Homo sapiens: one gene and its partners. The protein of the gene in region 1 purifies or fractionates together with the protein of each later gene. This does not show direct contact. Each region holds a gene or a part of one and is shown in the gene's direction. Other genes may lie near its edges. The genes, in order: UBXN4, VPS13C, SLC27A4 and VPS13A.

What was found.
Region 2: the proteins of UBXN4 (region 1) and VPS13C purify together in Homo sapiens (affinity purification with mass spectrometry; 4 studies listed by BioGRID and IntAct, with this or other methods). This does not show direct contact.
Region 3: the proteins of UBXN4 (region 1) and SLC27A4 purify together in Homo sapiens (affinity purification with mass spectrometry; 2 studies listed by BioGRID and IntAct, with this or other methods). This does not show direct contact.
Region 4: the proteins of UBXN4 (region 1) and VPS13A purify together in Homo sapiens (affinity purification with mass spectrometry; 4 studies listed by BioGRID and IntAct, with this or other methods). This does not show direct contact.

What each region holds. Positions count from the first base shown.
Region 1 is NC_000002.12:135,744,846-135,751,882, forward strand, and holds part of UBXN4 (UBX domain-containing protein 4), read left to right. Parts: intron 1-3,421; coding exon 3,422-3,524; intron 3,525-7,037. UniProt on the Homo sapiens protein: Involved in endoplasmic reticulum-associated protein degradation (ERAD). Acts as a platform to recruit both UBQLN1 and VCP to the ER during ERAD.
Region 2 is NC_000015.10:61,917,427-61,924,463, reverse strand, and holds part of VPS13C (intermembrane lipid transfer protein VPS13C), read left to right. Parts: intron 1-1,701; coding exon 1,702-2,067; intron 2,068-2,430; coding exon 2,431-2,517; intron 2,518-3,816; coding exon 3,817-3,966; intron 3,967-4,132; coding exon 4,133-4,397; intron 4,398-5,014; coding exon 5,015-5,175; intron 5,176-5,679; coding exon of another isoform or gene 5,680-5,742; exon of another isoform or gene 5,743-6,100; intron 6,101-6,206; coding exon 6,207-6,328; intron 6,329-6,828; coding exon 6,829-7,037. UniProt on the Homo sapiens protein: Mediates the transfer of lipids between membranes at organelle contact sites. Necessary for proper mitochondrial function and maintenance of mitochondrial transmembrane potential.
Region 3 is NC_000009.12:128,336,536-128,343,539, forward strand, and holds the start of SLC27A4 (long-chain fatty acid transport protein 4), read left to right. Parts: upstream 1-3,991; 5' UTR 3,992-4,303; intron 4,304-5,621; exon of another isoform or gene 5,622-5,830; coding exon of another isoform or gene 5,831-5,857; exon of another isoform or gene 5,858-6,225; intron 6,226-6,591; coding exon of another isoform or gene 6,592-6,597; coding exon 6,598-6,758; intron 6,759-7,004. UniProt on the Homo sapiens protein: Mediates the levels of long-chain fatty acids (LCFA) in the cell by facilitating their transport across cell membranes. Appears to be the principal fatty acid transporter in small intestinal enterocytes.
Region 4 is NC_000009.12:77,418,528-77,422,068, forward strand, and holds the end of VPS13A (intermembrane lipid transfer protein VPS13A), read left to right. Parts: 3' UTR 1-3,010; downstream 3,011-3,541. UniProt on the Homo sapiens protein: Mediates the transfer of lipids between membranes at organelle contact sites. Binds phospholipids. Required for the formation or stabilization of ER-mitochondria contact sites which enable transfer of lipids between the ER and mitochondria.

The sequences.
Region 1 (7,037 bases):
AGTATTAGGAAAGTTGTCATTAAGCATTGAGTAATTCCATTCAGCTTTCCACCACTGCTGTTCAAGCAGCTGCTGCCACCACTAGGCTGAGTCTAGGACAGACACTGCCAGTAGGGTTGAGACATCTGGGACCCTAATCACATGGTACAGTATAGGTGAGGGAGTGATGCACCAGCCTCACAAGAAGCAAGATTTATACTTTCAGCTACTTACGTGATATCACTGTTTAGATCCTCCCAGGATTCTCAAGCCTAAACGTGTAAGTGCTGCCTAAACCTGTGTTTCTCCCAGTGTTCTGCATCTGATTGGCACTACCATACATCTGGTTGGATAAACCATAAATATGAGAGTCATCTTTGACTCTTAACTCTTCAGTCTCTTCTTGAGCTCCGGATTGTTCACAACATTCCAAATCACATAGGCCTTTCCCTACACACGTATTCCTTCTGCGTGGTGAACTCTTCTGGCTGTTGGCATGGCTGAGCTCTCTTATCCTTTAGATTTTAGCTTAACTGTCACCTCAGAGAGGGCTTCTCTGACCATTATAAAGAGTTCTCTTGTTATTTTCTCTCATAGATTTCTTTTTAGTAGCATTTATTACTGTAATTACGTATAGTGTCTATTTGTTTAAAAATTTTGTATACCATTAGATTTTAAGCTCTGTTGAAGGCAGACAATGTCTCATTTGGTTTATATTTAGTATACAGTTCAATGCCTAGAACAAAATAAATGCAATAAAATAGTGAACATATAAAAGAATGAATGGAAAGGATTTCTCATTCTTCACAGCCTTCTCTGAGAAGGGTTCGTAGTAAGAATATTCTCATATACTTATTTTTCTTTGGTAGGTGAGTCATTTATTTGGAATCTTAATCTCTCCTCATCAGATGGTTTCTGAAGATGCATTTAGAGTGATCTCACTTGCAAATAGTAACTTCTCGTTATTTTGCATCTTCAACATCTAGGAGTCTGCTAATGGAGCATTCTTAATGGAGCATTTGGTCTGTGGATGCATTCTAGTCCCGTTTACTTTTTTTTTTTTTTTTTTTTTGAGATGGAGTCTCACTCTGCCGCCAGGCTGGAGTACAGTGGTGCAATCTCGGCTCACTACAACCTCCACTTCCCTGGTTCAAGCGATTCTCCTGCCTCAGCCTCCTGAGTAGCTGGGACTACAGGTGTGTGTCACCACGCACAGCTAATTTTTGTATTTTTAGTAGAGACGGGGTTTCACCGTGTTGGCCGGGATGATCTAGATCTCTTGACCTCGTGATCCGTCCGCCTAAGCCTCACAAAGTGAGCCACCGTGCCCGACCCCGTTTACTTTTCCATGGTCAAATTTCTCAAACTCCTATTTCTGGTATTCCTGAATCTCATCTCACAAAATATATGCAAATAAACAGCATTAGAGTCAATTATTATAGGCATGCCATCATACTTACTATATTAGGCATTTAGCTATTCCACAGAGTACTTATTGGGTGCCTACTATGTTTTGTAGAGATTTTAGTCTTGTCAGTAAATAAAATGGAACCAATCCTTGCCTTCATGGAACCTTCATTCTAGTTAGGGGAGACAGATACTAGTAAACATAATTAAAAATGCATAGTATATTGGAAGGTGAAAGTAATACAGAAAAACAACAGGAGATAAGGGAGCTTTGGGAATGTCTCAAGAGTGTAATTTTAAAGTAAGTGAGTAGGAGAGTTGTAATATTAAAGTGGGTGATTAAGTATCAGCTTTATTGAGCTGATATTTGAGCAAAGTTTTAAGGGAGTTGGAAGTTAACCATGTAGTTATCTGGGGGAAGAACATTCCAGGCAGAGGAAACAACTAGTACAAAGACCTTATGGCTGAAGTGTCTTTCATATTTGAGGAATAGAAGGAAAAAGAATAGCAAGAAAGGAAAAAGGAATGAGGTCACAGAGGTAGTTGGAGTCCTGATGTATGGGGCCTTCAAGCGCCCTGTAAGGACTTTGGCTTTTACTTTGAGGAAAATGGGGAGCCATTGTGTGATCTAAGCAGAGGGTTGATGTGATCTTTTTTTTTTTAGAGAAAGTTGCTGTGTTAAGAATAGACTTAGCAGGAAGACCAATTTGGAGGCTTTTACTAGGCTTCCAGGTGAGATGTGATAGCTTGGATCAGGGTAGTTAGTAGTGGAAGTGGTAAGAAAGTTACATTCTTGATTTATTTTGGAGCTGGAGTCAGTTACAATCAAGGAAAACTAGTTTTTTGGCCTGAGAACTGGAAGGATGGAGTTACCATAAACGAATAACTGCAATGAGGAAGGCCAAAGTGGATTAAATTGTCCTGGCCAACATAGTGAAACCCCATCTCTACTAAAAATACAAAAAAATTAGCTGGGCGTGGTGGCGGGCACCTGTAATTCCAGCTGCTCAGGAGGCTGAGGCAGGAGAATCGCTTGAACCCGGGAGGCAGAGATTGCAATGAGCCAAGATTGCACCATTGCACTACAACCTGAGCGACAAGAGTGAAACTCCATCTCAAAAAAAAAAAAAAAAAAAAAAAAGATACAGAACGTTTTCAGCATTCCAGAAGGCTCCTTCATGCTCTATCAAGGTAGCCACTATACTGAATTCTATCACCATAGATTAGTTATAGGTTAGCATACCTTTTATAATTAGCATACCTACAATAAAAGGCAAGTCTAAAATTGCAAACAGAATTGTACCTGCCTCTGTCTACCTTGGATTAATTTTGGAGTATAAATGCTGTGGAGTGGAGATGTTGAACTCAACAGAAAGGTGCCACATAAAGGACAGATATCAAACTTTTTATTTTTCTCTCTCTCTAGACGGTCTCACTGTGTCACCCAGGCTGGAGTGCAGTGGTGCAATCTCCGCTCACTGCAACTTCCACCTTCCGAGTGCAAGCAATTCTCCTGCCTCAGCCTCCTATGTAGGTGGGATTACAGGCATGCGCCACCACACCTGGCTAAGTAGAGATGGGGTTTTACCGTGTTGGCCAGTCTGGTCTCGAATTCCTGGCCTCAGGTGATCTACCCGCCTCAGCCTCCCAAAGTGCTGAGATTATAGGCGTGAGCCACCGAGCCCAGCCCACAACTTTTATTTTAATAAAATCTTATGTACAAAAGCCCAAATAGGCACTGCACCGATGACTGCTTATTATTGTGGTACTTTGCGCATCATAATTTAGATGGCTTCTTTTATGAAATATTTTGTATCATTTAAATAGTCCAGTGTAGTTTGTTTTCATTGCTCTTCATGATGTGAACTGTGTATGCAGTCACACTTTTCATTTAGTGGAAAATTCAGTTTTCAAATTTGGCAGAAAGTGGTATAGGTGGGATTATATTTTATTTGAGGTTTCCGTTTTCCAGGGGAAAAGAGTTTGCAATCAGCAGATCCCAGCCTGGTATAAGAATTTTTGAAATGTTTTACAGGTGATGATGAACAGTCTACACAGATGGCTGCAAGTTGGGAAGATGATAAAGTTACAGAAGCATCTTCAAACAGTTTTGTTGCTATTAAAATCGATACCAAAAGGTTTGTTTATGTTTTAATATTTTATTAATTTTAAAATTTATAAGTATTGTCTTTGATTTATAGTGATACTCTTGGACTAGAAGAATGTTGATGTTGGGCTGGGCACTCCCAGCACTTTGGGAGACTGAGGTGGGAGGATCGCTTGAGCCCAGGAGTTAGAGGCTAGCCTGGGCAACATAGTGAGACCCTGTCTCTATAAAAAATAATAATAAAATTAGGAGTGTGGTGTGTGCCTTTGGTCCTGCTACTTGGGAGGCTGAGGGGAGGATCACTTGATCCCTGAAGACTGGGGCTACAGTGAGCTGTGATCATGCCACTGCACTCCAGCCTGGGTGACAGAGTCAAACTCTGTCTCAAAAAAAAAAAAAAAAGAATATAGGCCAGGCACAGTGGCTCATGCCTGTAATCCCAGAACTTTGGGAGGCCAAGACAGGCGGATCACTTGAGGTCAGGAGTTTGAGACCAGTCTGGGCAACACAGTGAGACCTTGTCTCTACTAAAAAAAAAAATACAAAAATTAGCCGGGTGTGGTGGCACACGCCTGTAATCCCAGCTACTCGGGGGGCTGAGGTAAGAGGATCACTTGAGCCCAGGAGGTTGAAGTTGAGGCTGCAGTTAGCAGTGACTGCACCACTGCACTATAGCCTGGGCGAGAGAGCAAGACTATCTCAAAAAAAAAAAAAGAATGTTTATGCTATGTTTTTGGGTATCTAAGGCATATTAGGAACTTAAATTCTGACTGCCGTTTGCTAAATTCATCATGAATCCTGCTGAAAAAACTTTAAGCTTTCCTACTCTACCAAGCAGCCATCTAACATGTACCAGGAATGCAAAAAGAACAGTCATCTCCAGCTTCTAAAAACTTGGAAGTAATGGTAAATCATACATTGAATATCTCTGAGAGGTTGATCACTTACTGTCTTGAATCCTATTTTTGGGAATGGAGTCATTTAATCAGTGGAAATAAGGACATTTATAGGTTCCTCAAAGTACCTGATGTCCACAAGTCTATTTTGTTTCTCCGTTCCTCCTCCCCATCTTTTAAAAAAATTTTTGTTATAGGAAGTTTCAAACATATATGAAAGTAATGTAACAGTGTAATGTACCCCATGTACTTGTCTACTAGCTTTGGTAATTAACTCATGGTCAGTCTTGTTTCATCTATACCTCCACCCATTTCCACTCAATCCAAATAATTTTGAAACAAATCACAGTCACTGTATCACTTCATCTATAAATATTTTAGTATGTCTCTGAAGTATAAGTATTGTTAATTTTTTAAGCATAACTATAATATTAATACTTCACAAACTAATAATAATTCTTTAATATCAAATAACCAGCCAGTGTTCGACTTTTCAGTTGTCTCATCAAAGTCATAGTTTTATTACTTTATTGCAGTTTTTTAGTTCAAAATTATTCAAGGGCCACACATTAGGAAGCATTGATTTCTCTCAGTATGTAGGCTTCTCCTCCAACTCCCCTGCTCCTTGGAATTTATATTTTAAAGACACCAGGTCATTTGTTCTATACATTTGTTCTGTGGTTTCCTACAGTATGGATTTTGTTGACTGCAATGTGTTAGTGTCAAGTTGGTTCTTTCCTGTTTTCTGTATTGATAGGTAGATTCAGGTTTGTTTCCCCTCCCCTCATCCTGTCCTAAGACTACTTCATAGGTAGTGATGTGTCTTCCATCAGAAGACAGATAATACCCTGTTTTCTCTCTTTATGATGTTAGCAGCTATCAGTGATCATTACCTAAAAACATTATTATTTATTTTTTTCTTTGAAGCAGGATTTCACTATGTTGCCCAGGCTGGTCTTAAAATATTGGACTGAAGAGATCCTCCCATGTCAGCCTCCCAAATAGCTGTAGTTACAGGCATGCTTCACTGTGCCTGGTGCTGAAAACATTAATTCATTAGCACTTACAAAGTGGTATTCCTGTCTTTTTGATATTGATACTATCAGAATGAATAATGTGTTTGAAAATCACTGTCAAGATTAAAGCATTCAGAAATTTCTACTCGGGAGGCTGAGGCAGGAGAATGCTGTGAACCCGGGAGGCAGAGCTTGCAGTGAGCCGAGATTGCACCACTGCACTCCAGCCTGGGCAACAGAGCAAGACTCCGTCTCAAAAAAAATAAAAATAAAAATAAAAAAATAAATTCAGAAATTTGCCTATAAGTTTGTAAACTTTATGTAAAAATTTTCTGTGTTTACAAAAACATCAAGTCGTAGTATAGCCTGTCTCACAACAGTTACTGAACTATGTATTTACTGAGTAGTTTTTAAAAAACAGAATCTGTCAATTTAAGTATATCTTTTTTTTTTTATTGTTCATCACCTTCCTGAAGCACCTTTGAGAGTTGGCAGTGGCAAGAAGAATATAGGGATTTATAGGGAATGTGCAATACATGAGAATTCCAGAATTCTTGAGATTGTATACAGACTGATGTGTCTGGCTTTTTTTTTTTTTTTTTTTTTTTTTTTTTTTTTTTTTTGAGACGGAGTCTTGCTCTGTCGCCCAGGCTGGAGTGCAGTGGCGTGATCTCGGCTCACTGCAAGCTCCGCCTCCCGGGTTCACGCCATTCTCCTGCCTCAGCCTCCCGAGTAGCTGGGACTGCAGGTGCCCGCCACCATGCCCGGCTAATTTTTTTTTTTTTTTTGTATTTTTAGTAGAGACGGGGTTTCACCATGGTCTCGATCTCCTGACCTCGTGATCCGCCCGCCTCAGCCTCCCAAAGTGCTGGGATTACAGGTATGAGCCACTGTGCCCGGCCGTGTCTGGCATTTTTAAAAATAAATTACTTTTTTTTATTTTTTATTTTTTTTGAGACGGAGTCTCGCTCTGTAGCCCAGGCTGGAGTGCAGTAACGTGATCTTGGCTCACTGCAAGCTCCGCCTCCCGGGCTCACGGCATTCTCCTGCCTCAGCCTCCCAAGTAGCTGGGACTATAGGCGCCCACCACCATGCCTGGCTAATTTTTAAAATAGTTTTAGTAGAGATGGGGTTTCACAGTGTTAGCCAGGATGGTCTCGATCTCCTGACCTCGTGATCCACCTGCCCCGGCCTCCCAAAGTGCTGGGATTACAGGTGTGAGCCATCGTGCCTGGCCTTAAAAACAAATTTCTATTAGCAGATGCAGGGATACCTGCATATAGTGATGGTTCATGTTTGTTTCACTGTAGACTGCATGCTGATAGAATCTAGTGTGCCTTTAAATTATGGAAAATAAATTTTCTTCATTTCATAATAACTAAGTCACCCAATGTTTTGGGATCATTTTAGTGTGTATGTATTTTTGGAGATAGCGTGCATTGAAAATAGATTAGTAGGAAATGCGTAAAAAGTTTACAATTATTTCTGAAATGGTAGGATTTTGGGTAATTTTTTTTCTTGATTTTTTACTATGTTTTTAAATGTTTTTATGATAATAATGCTTTATATTTGAGGGAAAAAAGCAAATTCTAGTTCTTAGAAGCATTTGTTTGATTATTGGAAGCATCTACA
Region 2 (7,037 bases), on another chromosome or scaffold:
TGGGGATATGTAGCCCCTGCTGTCAAAAAACTTAATGACATATGCGGGAGAAAGAAAGAAATCAGTGATTACAGCTTTCAGTGCTAGAGGCATGGCCAAGATGCAGTTGGGAGCACAGGCATGGGGCCTTTAATTCAGACCAGGACATCAGGGAAAGCTGTGTAGAAGCAGGACTATTTGATTTGAGTTTTGAAGGGAGATTAAATAGATGGGGAGCATGGAAAGGTTTATCCAGACAGAACTGATAATATGCACAAAGGCAGAGGTGTGAAAAAATCCTTTAAGATTTAGAGGGGTGGCCGGGCGCGGTGGCCTCACGCCTGTAATCCCAGCACTTTGGGAGGCCGAGGCGGGCGGATCACGAGGTCAGGAGATCGAGACCATCCCGGCTAAAACGGTGAAACCCCGTCTCTACTAAAAAATACAAAAAATTAGCCGGGCGTAGTGGCGGGCGCCTGTAGTCCCAGCTACTTGGGAGGCTGAGGCAGGAGAATGGCGTGAACCCGGGAGGCGGAGCTTGCAGTGAGCCGAGATCCCGCCACTGCACTCCAGCCTGGGCGACAGAGCGAGACTCCGTCTCAAAAAAAAAAAAAAAAAAAAAAGATTTAGAGGGGTGGTCACATATGGCTGGAGAGAATGGTGTGGTGGCGTTGTAAGACTGGAAGCATTAATTATAAGTGACATTAATAAGACACGGAAAAAAAGTTGACAAGTAAGTTAGGAAAACAATACATACTAGATCCTGCTTTTGATGATATAATTATATCCCTTTACATTTTAAGTAAGGATTGTGAGAAGTGAACAATAAAGGAATACAGTTAACTTATTTAACCTAGTATTTCTCAAACTTTGGGAGAATCCTGGCTAGCTGGTTGAATAGGCACTAGGCCACAAAGAGCTCTGCACATTAAGTTAAAGAGAGTTTCAATTTTATCTTGTGGGATAAAAAAATTATGGGAAGTTGATGAAGATTTTAAACATAAGAATGTCATACTCAGATTTGGTTTGTAGAAAAATTATGCTGGTGGCAGTGTGGAGTGTAGGCTGAGAGGGCGTTGGCCGTAGAAGATGTCATCAGTGTAGAACTAAGGCACAGTAATAGGAAGTGAGGGAAGTGAGCAAAGAAAGGCACTGTCCAAAGATAATAAGAGGTAGGATTTATAGATCTTGGGGTAAGTCAAAGGAGAGCTGTGATTTTGAGTCTTCCAGCTTTAATAAGGCAAATGTATATCTTTTTCTTCCTTTTTTTTTTTTTCAGAAGATCTTGTTGCATACCGATATTTATGTGTATCTTGACAAGGATCACACACTTTGGCTTAGTTAATGTAGCTGTTTTTAAAATGAAGAATTTGTTTACATTGCTATACTTGTCTATTCACATAACACTGTTTTGCTCTGAATTGATCAGCTTAACTTTAGATTTTGACTACTGACATATAACATTAGTTATTTAATTCCAGATAACCTGAGTAGAAGTCAGTGTTGCATGATTACTTGGCTTGACACATAATTTTGTGTTCTCTCTTGTTTTTCTTGGTTACGAATTTATTCAAAATTTAAATTAGTTACTTTAATTTAAAATTAAAATTTAATTTAAAAATGTCACTTATAATTAATGTATGTCACTTAAAATCATGTATGTATATATTCTCATCTGGGAAAGAATTTATTATAAATATTTTTCTGCTTTCTTTTTTAAAGATTTCACCCATAATTCTTAATACTGTGTTGACAATCATGGCTGCATTGTCTCCAAAAACAAAAGAAGATGGATCCAAAGATACGTCTAAGGAAATGGAAAATCTTTGGGGTATCAAATCGATTAATGATTATAACACTTGGTTTCTTGGTGTTGACACGGCAACAGAAATAACGGAAAGCTTCAAAGGCATTGAACATTCACTGATAGAGGAAAATTGTGGTGTTGTTGTAGAATCCATTCAAGTTACCTTAGAATGTGGCCTTGGACATCGAACTGTACCTTTATTATTGGCAGAGTCTAAGTTTTCAGGAAATATTAAAAATTGGACTTCTCTAATGGCTGCTGTTGCTGACGTGACACTACAGGTATGGCCACATCACTTAATACCTTCAGAGACTTCTTGAAAGTGCGATTTTGGAATTAAGATATACACTTTTCTTGTTTGTGCATGGCCACTATGAGTACATATGTGAATAGATAGTGTGTTCTGACATTTAATTTGTCGATGTATTGTTTTTTGATAATTATTTTTTAAAGATTGATTTGCTAAATAATTTATGACAATAGAGTAAGAGAGTAAAGGAAAATACACTCTATATATTGTTAGATGGGTTTTGAAAATGGCTAATGATATATAACATTGATTACTTAATAATTTCCCTATTGGTTACAGAAATATGTAATTAAAGCCAAAGGACTGTCTTATAATTTTGTGTGTATCTTTCCAGGTGCACTATTACAATGAGATCCATGCTGTCTGGGAGCCACTGATTGAGAGAGTGGAGGGGAAGAGACAATGGAATTTAAGGCTTGATGTAAGGAAATCTTAAAATATCTTTGGATAGAATGATACTATGCATATTCATTCATAGTTTTTATTTCAGTGATTCTTAAGATGTGGTCTAGGATCCTTGAAGCCCTTTTAAGGGCTCTGTCCATGAGGTCAGAACTCTTTTCATATGTCATTTTCATTCTCATTCTCTCACGAGTGTATAGTGGAGTTTTCCAGAGACTAATGAAGGTGATACTGCAACAGATTGAATGCAGAACAGAAACGAGAATTTATCTGTCTTCCCTTAAGGCAGGCAGTAAAGAGATATATGTGTATGTTCCTCTTCTCACTGTATTTTTAAAATAGTTATTTTTGATTAAAAATGTTATTTATATTAGCATGTAATTTTTATTTTTAAATGAATTTTTAATTTTTTTTCAGTTTTAATTGTTAATAGAGTACATATTGGTAGATAAAACATAAATGAAGCTCTTTAGTATACTCAGTGATTTTTAAGGGTGAGACCAGAATATTTGAGAATTGTTAATGAACTCTTGTGTGTTATCTTTTTATGTTGTTTTTTGAGAACACCTCAGAAACCTAGATACTGAAGCACATTTTTCTTGATTAAAAGGAACTTGAGTCATATATTGTTAAGAAATTGTCGTAGCATACTTCTTTGGGGCAGCCTTACTAAGGAGTCAGGCACTGAAACTGACTCCACATATTCTTTTGTTAAAGATGAGTCACTTAACCTGTGTTCCAATTTCCTCTCAATAAAGAAGTAATATTTTTCTGACCTGCCTTTCTCTGGCATAGGGAGGCTAACAAAGAATGTTTTACAAGGCTTTTGAAATACTACTAGAACAGAAGCTGATGGAATCTGATGGCTAGTTAAGTGTTTATTATATTAATATTACTTATTTGAAGGTGTTATTGGTTTAAAAAATAGAAGGAGAGAAACATTTCCAGGTGGCACCTCTAATAGGGATCAGTTTAGACTTCAGGGTCCTCTTAGATTGCTCGTCAACACATAATCACCAGTTGGGTGACACTGAATAAATAGCTATGCTCTGAGGAATGCATAAGAGACAAATATTGTAGCTGGCTTTGAGTAATTTCATGGCGTAATTCTAAACTTTTCCCCATGCTTGGACTATACCCTGAAAGAATGAATGCTGAACTCCATGAAATCAAAGTGAAGCATGGTATATTTTTGAAAATAAGACTTTTGCGAAGCATTACTATAAAGTGATCAGTTTAGGAGAACTGAACTCCAGCATTTTTATTTTATTATCAACTGGCTAATAATTTAAATTTGCTGTGTTATTTTTCTTCATAGGTAAAGAAGAACCCAGTTCAGGATAAAAGTTTGCTGCCAGGAGATGATTTTATTCCTGAGCCACAAATGGCAATTCATATTTCTTCAGGAAATACAATGAATATAACAATATCCAAAAGTTGTCTTAATGTTTTCAACAATTTAGCAAAAGTATGTCTGAATCTTGCTTAGAATATTTCAAGTGGAATTTTAAAATGAAACATATAATTTTTTTGTCATCAAAATTAGTTTCCAAAAAATGTGTAATTATGGTATAGGTTTTGGGAAGAATGTATGTTTTTCAAAAATTTTACTGTGATGATATGTTCCTTTTCAGGGTTTTTCAGAGGGCACTGCTTCTACTTTTGACTACTCTTTAAAGGACAGAGCTCCTTTTACGGTAAAAAATGCTGTAGGTGTTCCCATTAAGGTGAAGCCCAATTGTAATCTCAGAGTAATGGGCTTCCCTGAGAAAAGTGATATTTTTGATGTTGATGCTGGCCAGAATTTGGAACTGGAGTATGCCAGCATGGTACCTTCAAGTCAAGGGAACCTATCTATATTGAGCCGTCAAGAAAGCTCCTTCTTCACTCTGACCATTGGTAGGCTATATTTGTTTTCCTTAAGGGTATCTTAGCAGTTGTTGGTGTGGGCTTATTTTTGATAAAATGTGAAAAAACATTTTGCTGCAGATATCTGGAGATACAACATTTGAAACATATAATTGCTAACCTCTTGTTTCTTGTTTTCTAAACTTGAGAAAATTAAACTTTATTGATTTAAGAAAACTTTACAAAACTAGATTATTTTTGTGCCCTTAAATAATGTATATATTATATAATATATATAAATATTATATATATAATGTGTTTTTAAAAGGATAGGAGTTTACTGAGGAGAGAAAATAGCTATATTCAGAAGTCTTACAGTGTTGACACTGTGACAAAGAAAAAGATTGTTGCTATATGATTGAGAGAATAAGAAATAAGTTGGATTTTGTTTTTATATTCAAAACCCCAAGCAAAACTGTTTTCAGCCAAAAATTTTATAACAGTAACTGGTCTTCTTTTTAAGTTTATGTCTTAGAAAAGCAATTTGTGGTGATCATTTCTAGTGATGAGGAAAAATACTCTTCATTATTTTGAGGTACTAATGATTGTTATAGAGAAACATTGGCAAATTAATATTTGGAATTCTTTTCACTTATGCACTGCCTTAGTACCTCATGGATATACAGAAGTTGCAAATATCCCTGTGGCCAGACCTGGACGGCGATTGTATAATGTACGGAATCCCAATGCCAGTCATTCTGACTCTGTCTTGGTACAAATTGATGCAACTGAAGGGAATAAAGTAATTACCCTTCGCTCTCCTCTACAGGTAATACTTCAAAGTTAATTGTATCCCTTTCAGTGTACCAAGAAATGGTTAAATCATTTAGCTGAATATAGGAATACAGTAAAACTTCATCAGGTCAATTCTGATTATTCAGAAATAAATAGTAATTATTCAGAAATAAATAGTAACAGAAATGGCTTCTATTTACTGTCCAGCTTGCTCTGATAATATTTATTTTAAATGTCTGTAGTTTTGTTTACTTAAAGCTCATTTTTGTTTTCTGTCTTTTAAGACAAATGCAAAATTAATAAAGCTCTTTTGGTATATTCCTTTAAATATTCAGAACCGAGGATTATTGTAATTGTAGTTAGGAAACATTCCATTCTCTTTGTATGTCACTTGGATTATATTTTTCAAGATATGTATGAAGGCATATTGGAATGATCTATCCCTCTGAAAAACATTTTAGCATCTTAATCTGTGTAAATATTTTTTCTACTTTTAAGGTTTTATCCAACATTTTTCTTTTTCTGTGTATTACTACAGGTTTCAGCATATGGTCAACAAAAGAACATTTTTTTTCCTACCTGTAACATCAGATACAAATGAAAAGGTTTCAAATTTTGGACATTGTTATCTTATAGTTTGTTATTTGCTCCAATGCGTAACAGACTGATGTCAAGAAAAGAATTGTACTATTTTTCTCATGATTTTTTGCTATCCATTTCTGTTTAGTTGTTATACATGATACATTGAGAAAAGATTGTCATGGAGAAAAAATGGCTTAAATCTTCAGAGAATAATACATATTTGAAAGATAATATAGACTAATACTAAACATAAGCTTATAATATATGGAGCATTTGAATATCTCAGTTTTCAACTGACACTTAAACATTAAATTTAATATATATAGCACTTAAATACCCTAAAATTTTTCAATTGCCAATAAAAATATCTTCCAATACTGAGTTTGAAATTTTTTAGATCTAAAAGTATTTGTTTGTGGCTCTCATTTTTTCTTTCGAACTTACATATCTTTTAAAAAACTTGTATTTTTTTTTGTCCAACAGATCAAAAACCATTTCTCCATTGCATTTATCATCTATAAATTTGTTAAGAATGTTAAGCTATTGGAGCGCATTGGGATAGCCAGACCTGAAGAGGAGTTCCATGTTCCTTTAGATTCATATAGGTAGATACTTCTTAAATGTATTAAACTTTAAATGTATTGAGTTGGGGATTTATATTCTGGCAAATAACTTCATATTTTTATTAACTAAAGATCAGTAAAAGCCAGTTTTAAGACATAATTTAGTCTTCCATTGAGAAATACATTTATATTATCATTGAATTTATCAGGTGAAAATTCCTGACTGTATATTTGATGTCAGGATTTTTCTGACTATTTTTATTAGATTGCCTTTGTATTTGAAATGAAAATTTTTTTAAGTTGTCTTGTTTACAGAGTTGTTTTTTGTTTGTTTGTTCTTTTCAGAAAGTCCTCCGTAAGTTAGCTATGTGATTTTGGGTGAATTTCCTAACCTTTTTTTTAGCCCTGGTTTCCTCATCTGTATATCTGTAAAAACAGGAATAATAGCACCTATCTTGTAGAGTTGTCAGGAAGATTTAATGAGATGCTTTTTTTTAAGTTGTGGATCAAAACTTTATTGTCACTGTTTCCTCTTTCTGCAGATGTCAATTGTTTATCCAGCCAGCTGGAATCTTAGAGCATCAGTACAAAGAATCTACCACTTATATTTCCTGGAAGGAAGAACTTCATAGGAGCAGGGAAGTCAGATGCATGTTGCAGTGTCCATCAGTAGAAGTCAGCTTCTTACCTCTCATAGTGAATACAGTTGCTCTGCCTGATGAATTGAGCTACATATGTACACATGGGGAAG
Region 3 (7,004 bases), on another chromosome or scaffold:
TCAAATGTCACAGCAGAGATGTCTTCCTGGGCTTCCTGCCATCTAAAGCAGTCCCTAGTCCCCCTCTGCCTCTCTCCATGCTATCATCTTCTGTTTATTATTATTTATTTTTTGAGATGGGGTCTCATTCTGTCACCCAGGCTGGAGTGCAGTGCCACTATGACGGCTCACTACAGCCTCGACCTCCTGGGCTCCAGGATCCTCTTGTTTTAGCTTCCCTAGTAGCTGGGCCTATGGATGCATGCCACCACGCCTAGCTAAGTTTTTTTTGTTTGTTTTGTTTTTTTTTGTTTTTTTGTTTTGAGATGGAGTCTCGCTCTGTCACCCAGGCTGGAGTGCAATGGCGTGATCTCAGCTTACTGCAACCTCCCTTTCCCAGGGTCAAGCAATTCTCCTGCCTCAGCCTCCCAAGTAGGTGGGATTACAGGGGTGCACCACCATGTCCAGCTAATTTTTATTTTTAGTAGAGACGGGGTTTCACCATGTTGACCAGGCTGGTCTCGAAATCCTGACCTCAGGTGATCTGCCCACTTTGGCATCCCAAAGTGCTAGGATTACATGCCTGAGCCACCGTGCCCAGTCAAGTGGTTTCTTTTTTTTTTTTTTTTTTTTGGCGGGGGGAGTGGATGGAGTCTCACTCTGTCGCCCAGGCTGGAGTGCAATGGCGTGATCTCGGCTCACTGCAACCTCCCACCTACTGGGTTCAGGCGATTCTCCTGCCTCAGCCTCCCGAGTAGCTGGGATTACAGGTGCCTGCCACCACGCCCGGCTGATTTTTTTTTTAATTGTTAGTAGAGATGTGGTTTCACCATGTTGGTCAGGCTGGTCTCAAACTCCTGATCTTGTGATCCCCCCGCCTCAGCCTCCCAAAGTGCTGGGATTACAGGTGTGGGCCACCGGGCCCGGCTTTTTTTTTTTTTTTTTCTTTTGTAGAGACAGGGTCTTGCTATGTTGGCTCGGCTGGTCTTGAACTCCTGGCCTCAAGCCATCTTCCTGCCTTGACCTCCCAAAGTGCTGGTATTCCAGATATGAGCCACTGCACTATGCCCTTATTTTCTTTAGAGCATTCACCACTCTGAAATTATTTTGTTGGTAGAGCTTGGCGGGGGGTGGCTCATGCCTGGAGTCCCAGCACTTTGGGAGGCCTGGGGGGGCAGATGACTTGAGCTCAAGAGTTCCAGACTAGCCTGAACAACATGATGAAACCTCGTCTCTACTAAAAATACAAAAAATTAGCCAGGTGTGGTGGCGCACACCTGTAGCCCTAGCTACCCAGGAGGCTGAGGTAGCAGGAGCACCTGAGCCCAGGAGGTGAAGGCTGCAGTCAGCTGTGATTGTCTGGGCAACAGGAGTGAGACCCCATCTCAAAAAAAAAAAATTAAAAAATTTTAATGACAATACTGTGATGAGCGTGACACCAGCACAGTGAGCACTGAGTGAGGGATGACCTATTCCATCTCACTTCCACCTGTCCTCTGTGCGGCCAGCTAGACTGTAAGCAACTGAAAGGCAGGCTGTCCTGTTCTGTGTTGTCTTGCTTCTCCCCCTCAGGCCTGATCCAATGTCCGGTGGTACTGCTTTGGTTTCTCCAGTGTGACGAGCCTGACTGAAGGAGAGCAGGTGGCTGGTCACCAGCATCCTCCCGCTAACTCTCACCTGCCCACTTGCATATGACCTCAGTAGTTGATGTGGAAGTACTCATGATTATACTCACGAATCCTGGTGTGCATAAGGTCAGAGCCTCCAATTCACTCTCCCTTTCATTCATTCAAGAAATGTTGTGCCAGGCGCAGTGGCTCATGCCTGTAATCCCAACACTTTGGGAGGCTGAGGCGGGTGGATCACGAGGTCAGGAGATCGAGACCATCCTGGCTGACACGGTGAAACCCTGTCTCTACTAAAAAAAATACAAAAAAATTAGCTGGGCCTGGTGGCGGGCGCCTGTAGTCCCAGCTACTCGGGAGGCTGAGGCAGGAGAATGGCGTGAACCTGGGAGGCGGAGCTTGCAGTGAGCCGAGATCGCGCCACTGCACTCCAGCCTGGGCGACAGAGCAAGACTCCGTCTCGGAAAAAAAAAAAAAATACTCCCCACAAATCTCCACGCTGACCCTGTGAGGTATTATTAATTAGTATGTCCCATTTTTTATATGTAAGAACAAAATGAATCTTGACCTTTCAGCTGAGAAGGCGAACTCAATGCTCATGCCCATACCACTGCACATTCTGCCTCCTGATGGTGATACCCATGAAGGATGTGGTGCTGGAATTTACTCAAGTCCCCAAAAGGAGGCACCCTATATTCCAGAAGAAATAGGTCCAAATCCTTATCAGACCAAAATTTCATCTTTATTTTTATTATTATTAGTTTTCTGAGACAGGCTCTCACTGCTCTGTTGCTCAGGCTGGAGTGCAGTGGCCCAATCTCGGCTCACTGCAACCTTTGCCTCCCGGGTTCAGTGATTCTCTTGCCTCAGCTCCTGAGTAGCTAGGATTACAGACGTGCACCACCACGCTCGGCTAAGTTTTGTATTTTTAATAGAGACAGGGTTTCGCCCTGTTGGCCAGACTGGTCTCGAACTCCTGACGTCATGTGATCTGCCCACCTCAACCTCCCAAAGTGCTGGGATTACAGGCATGAGCCACTGTGCCCAGCTTATTTTTATTTTTTGAGACACGGTCTTACTTTGTTGCCCAGGGTGGAGTTTAGTGGTGCAATCACAGCTCACTGCAGCCCCAAGTTCCAGAGCTCAAGCAATCCTCCCACCTCATCTTCCTGAGTAGCTGGGAGTACAAGCAAGAGCTACCTGGCTAATTTTTTTTTTTTTCCTGTAGAGGCAGAGTCTCACTATGTTGCCCAGGCTGGTCTTGAACTCCTGGCTGAAGTGATCCTCCTGCCTCAGCCTCCAAAAGTGCTGGGATTACAAGCTTGAGCCACCACGCCAGTCCCAGAATCTTTTTTTTTTTTTTTTTTTTTTTTTTTTTTGAGATGGAGACTTGCTCTGTCGCCCAGGCTGGAGTGCAGTGGCGCAACCTCGGCTTACTGCGACTTCCGCCTCCCAGGTTCAAGCAATTCTCCTGCCTCAGCCTCCCAGGGATCTATTAATGTTTAAGGACAAGTGGCAACTGTGGATGCCCAACATGGTTACTTAACAAGAAACCAATTTTTCAGAGGCCAAGAGTCCCAACAGGGCCGAGAATCTGGCCACTCGCCTATGGCTCTGGAGGTGGCATGACAAATAAGGGTGGCATGACAAATATAGGTTAACTGATTTGTTGCAGGGACCAGAGATCATAGATGGTGAAGTTAACTAAGGGCCTCCAAATCCGTGTCCTTTGTGCCAACAGGTGTGCCAGGCTGCTCACAAGACACCATGGTACGAGAAAGGATTTCTCGTAGTCACCTAGACACCAGGTTTATGGCTGTGTCGCAGCAAAGTTGGGTGTGACTTATGATTTTCGTTCTGAACCTTATTTGTTAGATAGGTCCTGGAGTCCTTAAAACACGCAGGTGAAAGTCAGGGAGTAGGAGCCATCAAAATTCGACTCTGGTGGGACTCGAACCCACAACCTTTGAATGACCACACTAGGCTCAGCTAGAAGTCCAATGCGCTATCCATTGCGCCACAGAGCCGGCTGCGGAACCCGGCCGCCCCGCTCACCTCTGCCTGAAACCGCCCTCTTAGCGAGCTTCTAGGTGTGGTGCTGGGTGTTTGCTGAACTCGGCCGGGGCCCGAGAGCGTGCTCCGGGTTTTCGGCTGTGGTGTGGACTGGGGTGCTCTTCCTACATCCGGGCGCTGGGGACAGCAGGGGGCAAGGGCCGGGGTCGGCAGGGAGGAAGGGCCGGGGTGAAGCCCGCCTGTCTCCTCGCGGACTCGGGGGTCTCCTCGGCTGGGTGGGGCCGCGCGGCGTGGACTACAACTCCCAGCGTGCCGCGCGGCGGCGCCGCCCGAAGCCGTTGCGCGAGCAGGGCGGGCTGGGGCCGAGCGGCGTCAGGCGCGCTGGGGCTGCGCTGCGCCGCCGGCTCTGTGGCTTGCCGGCTTCGGGGAAGGTGCGGCAGGCGGTGCTGCGGCCTGGCACAGCAGGTTTGGGGTGCGGGAGGCGGGCGGGGTAGGAGCGCGGCGGGCGGGGCCGGGCGGCGGGCGGGGCTGGCGGGGCGGCCGGGCCATGCAGGGCGCAGAGCCGGCTAAACCCTGCTGAGACCCGGCTCCGTGCGTCCAGGGGCGGCTAATGCCCCTCACGCTGTCTACGCTGCTGCAACCGGGCCGCATCTGGACGGGGCGCCGCGCGGCGGAGCCGACGCCGGGTGAGCATAGACCGGGCTGGTGGGTTCCCGGGTGGGGACATGTGCCAGGCCGAGTCGGGCGAGGTGGCGGTGCGGACCCCAGGTGGGGGGCGCGCCCTGCGGCGCTATTTCCCCGACAGACGCACTGTTACCTTGCTGTCTAGGGGCGAGGGCGGCACGCGTGACCCGGGACAGGGGCCCGAGGGAACTAGTCACCCTCTTCTGGCCTCTTCTTGCCCCAGCCTTCCAGGACAGGTTCCTGCCCCTCTGCTATGGCGGGCTATGGGAGGCCAGAGATCTGAGGACCCTGGACCCTGGCGTTGGGGTTGAGGACTCTGGTTCAGTTCCCCCGCCCCCGGCTTTTGCTTTTCGCGAGGGGGAGGGGGAGATGGTCTCCCAGGGCTTCTTGTGGTCCAGACCATTCCCTTTTCCTGGCTTGGAGGCTCTCAGGCCATTTCACATTTGTGACCTTCATCTACTCCCAAGAACAGGAAAACTCGGAGAAAAACAGTCCCATCAGATGTCCCCTTGATCGAGTCCTCAAAGCTCCAGGAATAGAACCCAAGAGTCCTAGCTCAACCCAGCCCCTGAAGCACAGTCAAGTCATTCGCCTTCCCCTAAGCCCTAGACCCCAAAGATTCATCCGAGTGGCTGTGTGTGTCTGTGTGATGGGTGGTGGTGTCTTCAAGGTCCTCCTCGCCTCCCTCAATCAGCTTTGCCCCCTGGGCGGTCACCTTTCAAGCACTTCCAGGCTCTAACTCGTTTTCTGGGTCGCCCTCTATAGACCAACAGACGCACTGCGATACCTGAGTCTATGGGCAGGGACCAAGCAGGGCTCCTTTTCCAGGGAGCTGCCCCTTTGACTTGGCCTGGTCATCCACAGAACCTCCCTGGGTTCTGGGTGGGGAGTCGAGCCAGAGACTTTTTTTTTCTTTTTTTGAGACGGAGTCTCGCTCTGTCTCCCAGGCTGGAGTGCAGTGGCACAATCTCGGCTCAATGGAACCTCCGCCTCCCGGGTTCAAGCAATTCTTCTGCCTCAGCCTCCTGAGTAGCTGGGGTTACAGGTGTGTGCCACCATGCCTGGCTAATTTTTGTATTTTTAGTAGAGACAGGGTTTCACCATCTTGGTCAGGGTGGTCTCGAACTCCTGACGTCATGATCCGCCTGCCTCGGCCTCCCAAAGTGCTGGGATTACAGGTGTGAGCCACCACTGCCAGCGAGCCAGAGGCTCTTAAGTCAGTACCCACCCCCAGGCCATCCGGTTTTAGGGACCCTGGATGTCAGAAGAGTGAACTGTCATGTTTTGGCTAGAAAAGCCTCTTAGAACACGTCTCAGGACAACTCGGTGGTGGCCACTGCGCAGACCAGACTTCGCTCGTTCTCGCATGCCTCGCTCCGCTTTTCCTCCGCAACCATGTCTGACAAACCCGATATGGCTGAGATTGAGAAATTCGATAAGTCGAAACTGAAGAAGACAGAGATGCAAGAGAAAAATCCACTGCCTTCCAAAGAAACGATTGAACAGGAGAAGCAAGCAAGCGAATCGTAATGAGGCGTGCACCGCCAATATGCATTGTACATTCCACAAGTATTGCCTTCTTATTTTACTTCTTTTAGCTGTTTAACTTTGTAAGATGCAAAGAGGTTGGATCAAGTTTAAATGACTATGCTGCCCCTTTCACATCAAAGAACTACTGACAACGAAGGCTGCGCCTGCCTCTCCCATCTGTCTATCTGGCTGGCAGGGAAGGAAAGAACTTGCTTGTTGGTGAAGGAAGAAGTGGGGTGGGACGACAGTGAAATCTAGAGTAAAACCAGGCTGGCCCAAGGTGTCCTGCAGGCTGTAATGCAGTTTAATCAGAGTGCCATTTTTTTTTTTGTTCAAATGATTTTAATTATTGGAATGCACAGTTTTTTTAATATGCAAATAAAAAGTTTAAAAACTTAAAAAAAAAAAGAACACGTCTCACTACACCCATTGCACAGAGGGCAGATACTAAGGTCTAAAATGTGAAAAGGTCTTGCCCAAGGTCACTTGGAGAATGGTGGGCAGAGATGGGACTATGAGACGAGAACCAGCCTCCTGCTTCTCACTCTTGGAATTCCTCACCTCAAGTGCCAAGCCCCTAGCCTGCCCCTTCCAGGCCAAGCCTGGAAAGGGACCCCTGTGGTCAGTCACCCAACTCAGTATGGCTAAGCCTTACCACAGGCTGTCCCCTTGGGATCACAGTGGCCTGGCTGTCTGGGCTGGGAGGTAGGAGACCTGGAGGGTTGGGTGTTTGGGTCCACTAACTGCCCTGTGTCCGCAGGCCACAATGCTGCTTGGAGCCTCTCTGGTGGGGGTGCTGCTGTTCTCCAAGCTGGTGCTGAAACTGCCCTGGACCCAGGTGGGATTCTCCCTGTTGTTCCTCTACTTGGGATCTGGCGGCTGGCGCTTCATCCGGGTCTTCATCAAGACCATCAGGCGCGATATCTTGTGAGTACCTGGCCCAGCCTTTCCTGGGGTCTGCCACACTACAGTGAGCTTCTGGTCCCCCAAATCTCCCCAGGCCAGACCTCATGTTCTCTACCAGCACAGGGCAGCTGAGCTGAGTTCCAGAACAGCAGCCTCTGCTCCACACCCGTACCCTGGCAATAGTACCTGGTCCCTCCATCTCCAAGGTCAAAGTCTTCTCCCAGGGAATCTCCCTAACTTGAGGCTCCCAGGCCTTGGGCAGGCTTG
Region 4 (3,541 bases), on another chromosome or scaffold:
TTCCCTTTTAGAGTATACATATTTGCTGCTTTTCCTTTAGTGTTCACAAAAATCCCAAGGTCAGTTTAGTGTGGCTGAGTTGTTGTTATCTGGACCCTAAACAATCATTACCACCTGTAGACAGTTCTTACCTACCCCTCTCCTCCACAATCCTAGTCCATTTGGAGGCAACTATCCTGTGGCCTCCAAGTGAATAAATCTTTCTTACACTTACTTACGTGATATTTTCTATCATAATTATCTCTCTCATTTCTTCCAATAGTAATAGCGGTAATATTGTTCCATTGAATATCTATGCACCTAGCTCATCTCTTAGAAACATCCCACATAGTAGCATCGTATTACTCTCTGGTAAAAAGAAAGATTAAATTAAAAGGACTCTACACAGTGCTGAATTTCCTGCACCTAAATTATTCAGTTATCACTTGCCAGTATTAGTTGATCCTTCAGGCTATGCCAAGTGCCCCCTCATGTAGGCCTCTGTATTAAAAAGATTGGGACAAAATACTTGATTAGTTTGCCTGTAGAAGCTCAAAGTGTGTACCAAATACATTGACAGTGGATGCTTTCATGGCTCAGCCAACACAGTTCAGAGGAATCTTTTCGGCTTCCAGGGCATTGCTTGTTACCTTTTGTCAGGATCAACCCAAATCCTCAGGGATGCTGTTTTTCCACACTGTAAGTCCTAACTCATTAGTGGGTCATGAAATCAACTTAACAGCTCAAGACCAGTATATTTTAAACGTGAAATAATAAAAAATAGAGGAACAATAGAGCATATAAAATGGTTAAGTATTGGTTCCTGAAATACTGTTTCAGCTAAATATTCTATTTACTGTGTATACTGGGTCACAATATAAAGTGTTTCCTGTTATGAAATGCAATTTAAAAAAAGAAAGCTTGAAAGACTGCTGCAGGAGGCACCGGCCATCCAGTGATTGTTGGAAGAGTCTGGATTGTGTGGAGCCTGACCTTAGATAAGGAGCAGCAGATCCACAACTCAGGAAGTCTAGAGATGCTTAGCACTTCTTCTTTTGAGTGAGAAGATGGAATCACTCTTGGTTTCTAAAATATTTTTCTTCTCTGCTGTGTATCGGGCAACCTCACATGATTCAGTGGGACCAGAAAAAGCATAGAAAAATTAGATCCACACACAGCACCCAAAAAAGGCCATAGTCTTTTGTTTACCTAGATGTATTTTAACCTCTTTACCACTAAGCATTTTACTATAATAGAACTGGGGACATACATTGTCCTTTTGAGTCCGTTGAATCTGCACCATCTACCTTTTGGCTGATTCACCATACAGGTGGCAAAGGCCTTTAAAAATGGGGAGCTAATACGTAGGGCACATTCTGGTAGGGCCAAAATATTCAGTGTCTGGGGGGTGCTATGCAAATATCAATGACTTTTTACTAAAAACAGTGGATTTCCTCATTTCTTTAAGATCCAAGTAGAAAATGTAAATAACTTACATTCTGTATGCAGGACTCAATACAGACTTAGTCAATCTGATTTTTTTTGGTGCTTTTCAGTATAGCGCAACTCTAAAAGGAAACCCATTCACCCTCCTTAGTCCTTTGAAGTATACTTTTGAAATTATACCTTATTGTTAATGGCAACCTAATCAAGCTAGGATTTGTCGGTTAAAATTTTGATTCTTGTAATCTGTACTGTCAATTTTTGGCCACTCTGGCTGTTACAGCAAACTTTTCTCCCACTGTCATAATTGGTCTAAAGTAGTATTTGTTTCAGGACTATCCAAAAAGCAAGGCCAGCACATTGAGAAGATGCAGAATCCTACTCTATTACAAACCTCACTCATGTTTCTTTTATTGAAACCTTTTTCTACTTTATATTTCCTCTTTTGTAAATTTTTCCATGTCATTTAAAAAATTTTTTACTTTAGAATTACAGATTAGTTCTTTTTTTAAAGCATTATGGCATTTTCAAAAAAAAAATTATTTTGGTTACCCAAAAAGCTATACAAGAAATATAACTTCAATTTTTTAGGTTGATATGGGTATATTTTTAAAGTTTTTATTACTTTATACAAATACAAATTAATTTATATTATAGTTTAACACCTGCTATGATGATAGATATCACACTGCTATGATAGAAAATCCCTGTCTGTCATTGAACTATTCATTTAGTGTTACTCTGATATGTTAATAATGTATTCCTTCTAATGAAGTCCTTGTAACAAGAAACCCTGTGAGATTGGTATAATGAGATATCAAATAATCAGAAGTATAATTAAAATAGAACATGTTGGAAAATCCCAACATTTCCTGTTATGCCGTCATACCTCCGGTGTTCAGTTTGTTACTCAAAAGTTCCCAGTTCTTAGGCTGAAAAACATTCAAGTAAAAATGTAGCATAGATTACACTGAAATATTTTCAGTATCAATGATTTAATATCCACACAAACTATTAGGAATGGTATCTGGAACTTGTTACAAGGTCAGATAAACTGTTACAGAATTTTAGAAATAATTATCTCTGTATGTGACTGTGTATTACATATAAAAATGAATTTTTCAGGAAAAGTGCACTTTAAAAATACTTTCTCTTGCTAGTTTTTTAAATTGATGAAATAGCCTGTGCTGCTTTGGAATGCTTATTCTTTCTTTGATGAAAATACGGTCATTGATTATGATAATTTTAAAAATATCTATTTCTGCATCGCTGCAGGATTTCCTACACTTTTCTGTTCCTCATCCCTCTTTTATGTGTGCTTGGCTCAGTTGCCTGTTACACAGCCTCTGCCTTGGTTTTGTGTATTCTAAGATAATTTATAAACACAGATATTTACAGTGAAGTTCTTCCTTTTGAAACTAATCTTATTCTTTTATTCCTCTCTCTAAAAATTGGTTGGCCATGCTCACTAATGATTTTTTTTCTTAACAATAAGCATTTCTTGGTATTGGTAGATTTGGATTGCATGGTAAGATGACTGCCCATTTTCACCATGTATACCTTTGTCAAATAAAGATTTCTGATCTTTGGTCTGCTTCTGTTTTTAGTTTTTTGATAGAACTAGAAACATTATTAATACCCTTCCCTTGCCTATATAAATTCCACCCTCTTTGGGGCTGAAACAAATGTGAATAACAGATTGCCCAAGGTCCTGATTTTTCAGTCAAAGCAGGCGACATTCCAGCCCAGCATGATCATTGCTGACTAAAAGCTTGGGGTGGTATAGTACCTAGTAAATTCTCTTTTTTTTTTTTTTTTTGAGACAGACAGTATTGCTCTGTCACCAGGCTGCAGTGCAGTGGCACGATCTCGGCTCACTGCAACGTTCACCTCCCAGGTTCAAGTGATCTTCCTGCCTCAGCCTCCCGAGTCGCTGGGACTACAGGTGTGTGCCACCACGCCCAGCTAATTTTTGTATTTTTTTTTTTTTAGTAGAGATGGGGTTTCACCATGTTGGCCAGGATTGTCTCGACCTAGTGAATTCTTAACCACCGACATTCTGTCTCTTAACCTTAGAAAACTCCGCATGACTCATTTCCCCAGTAAGTAATGAGAATAT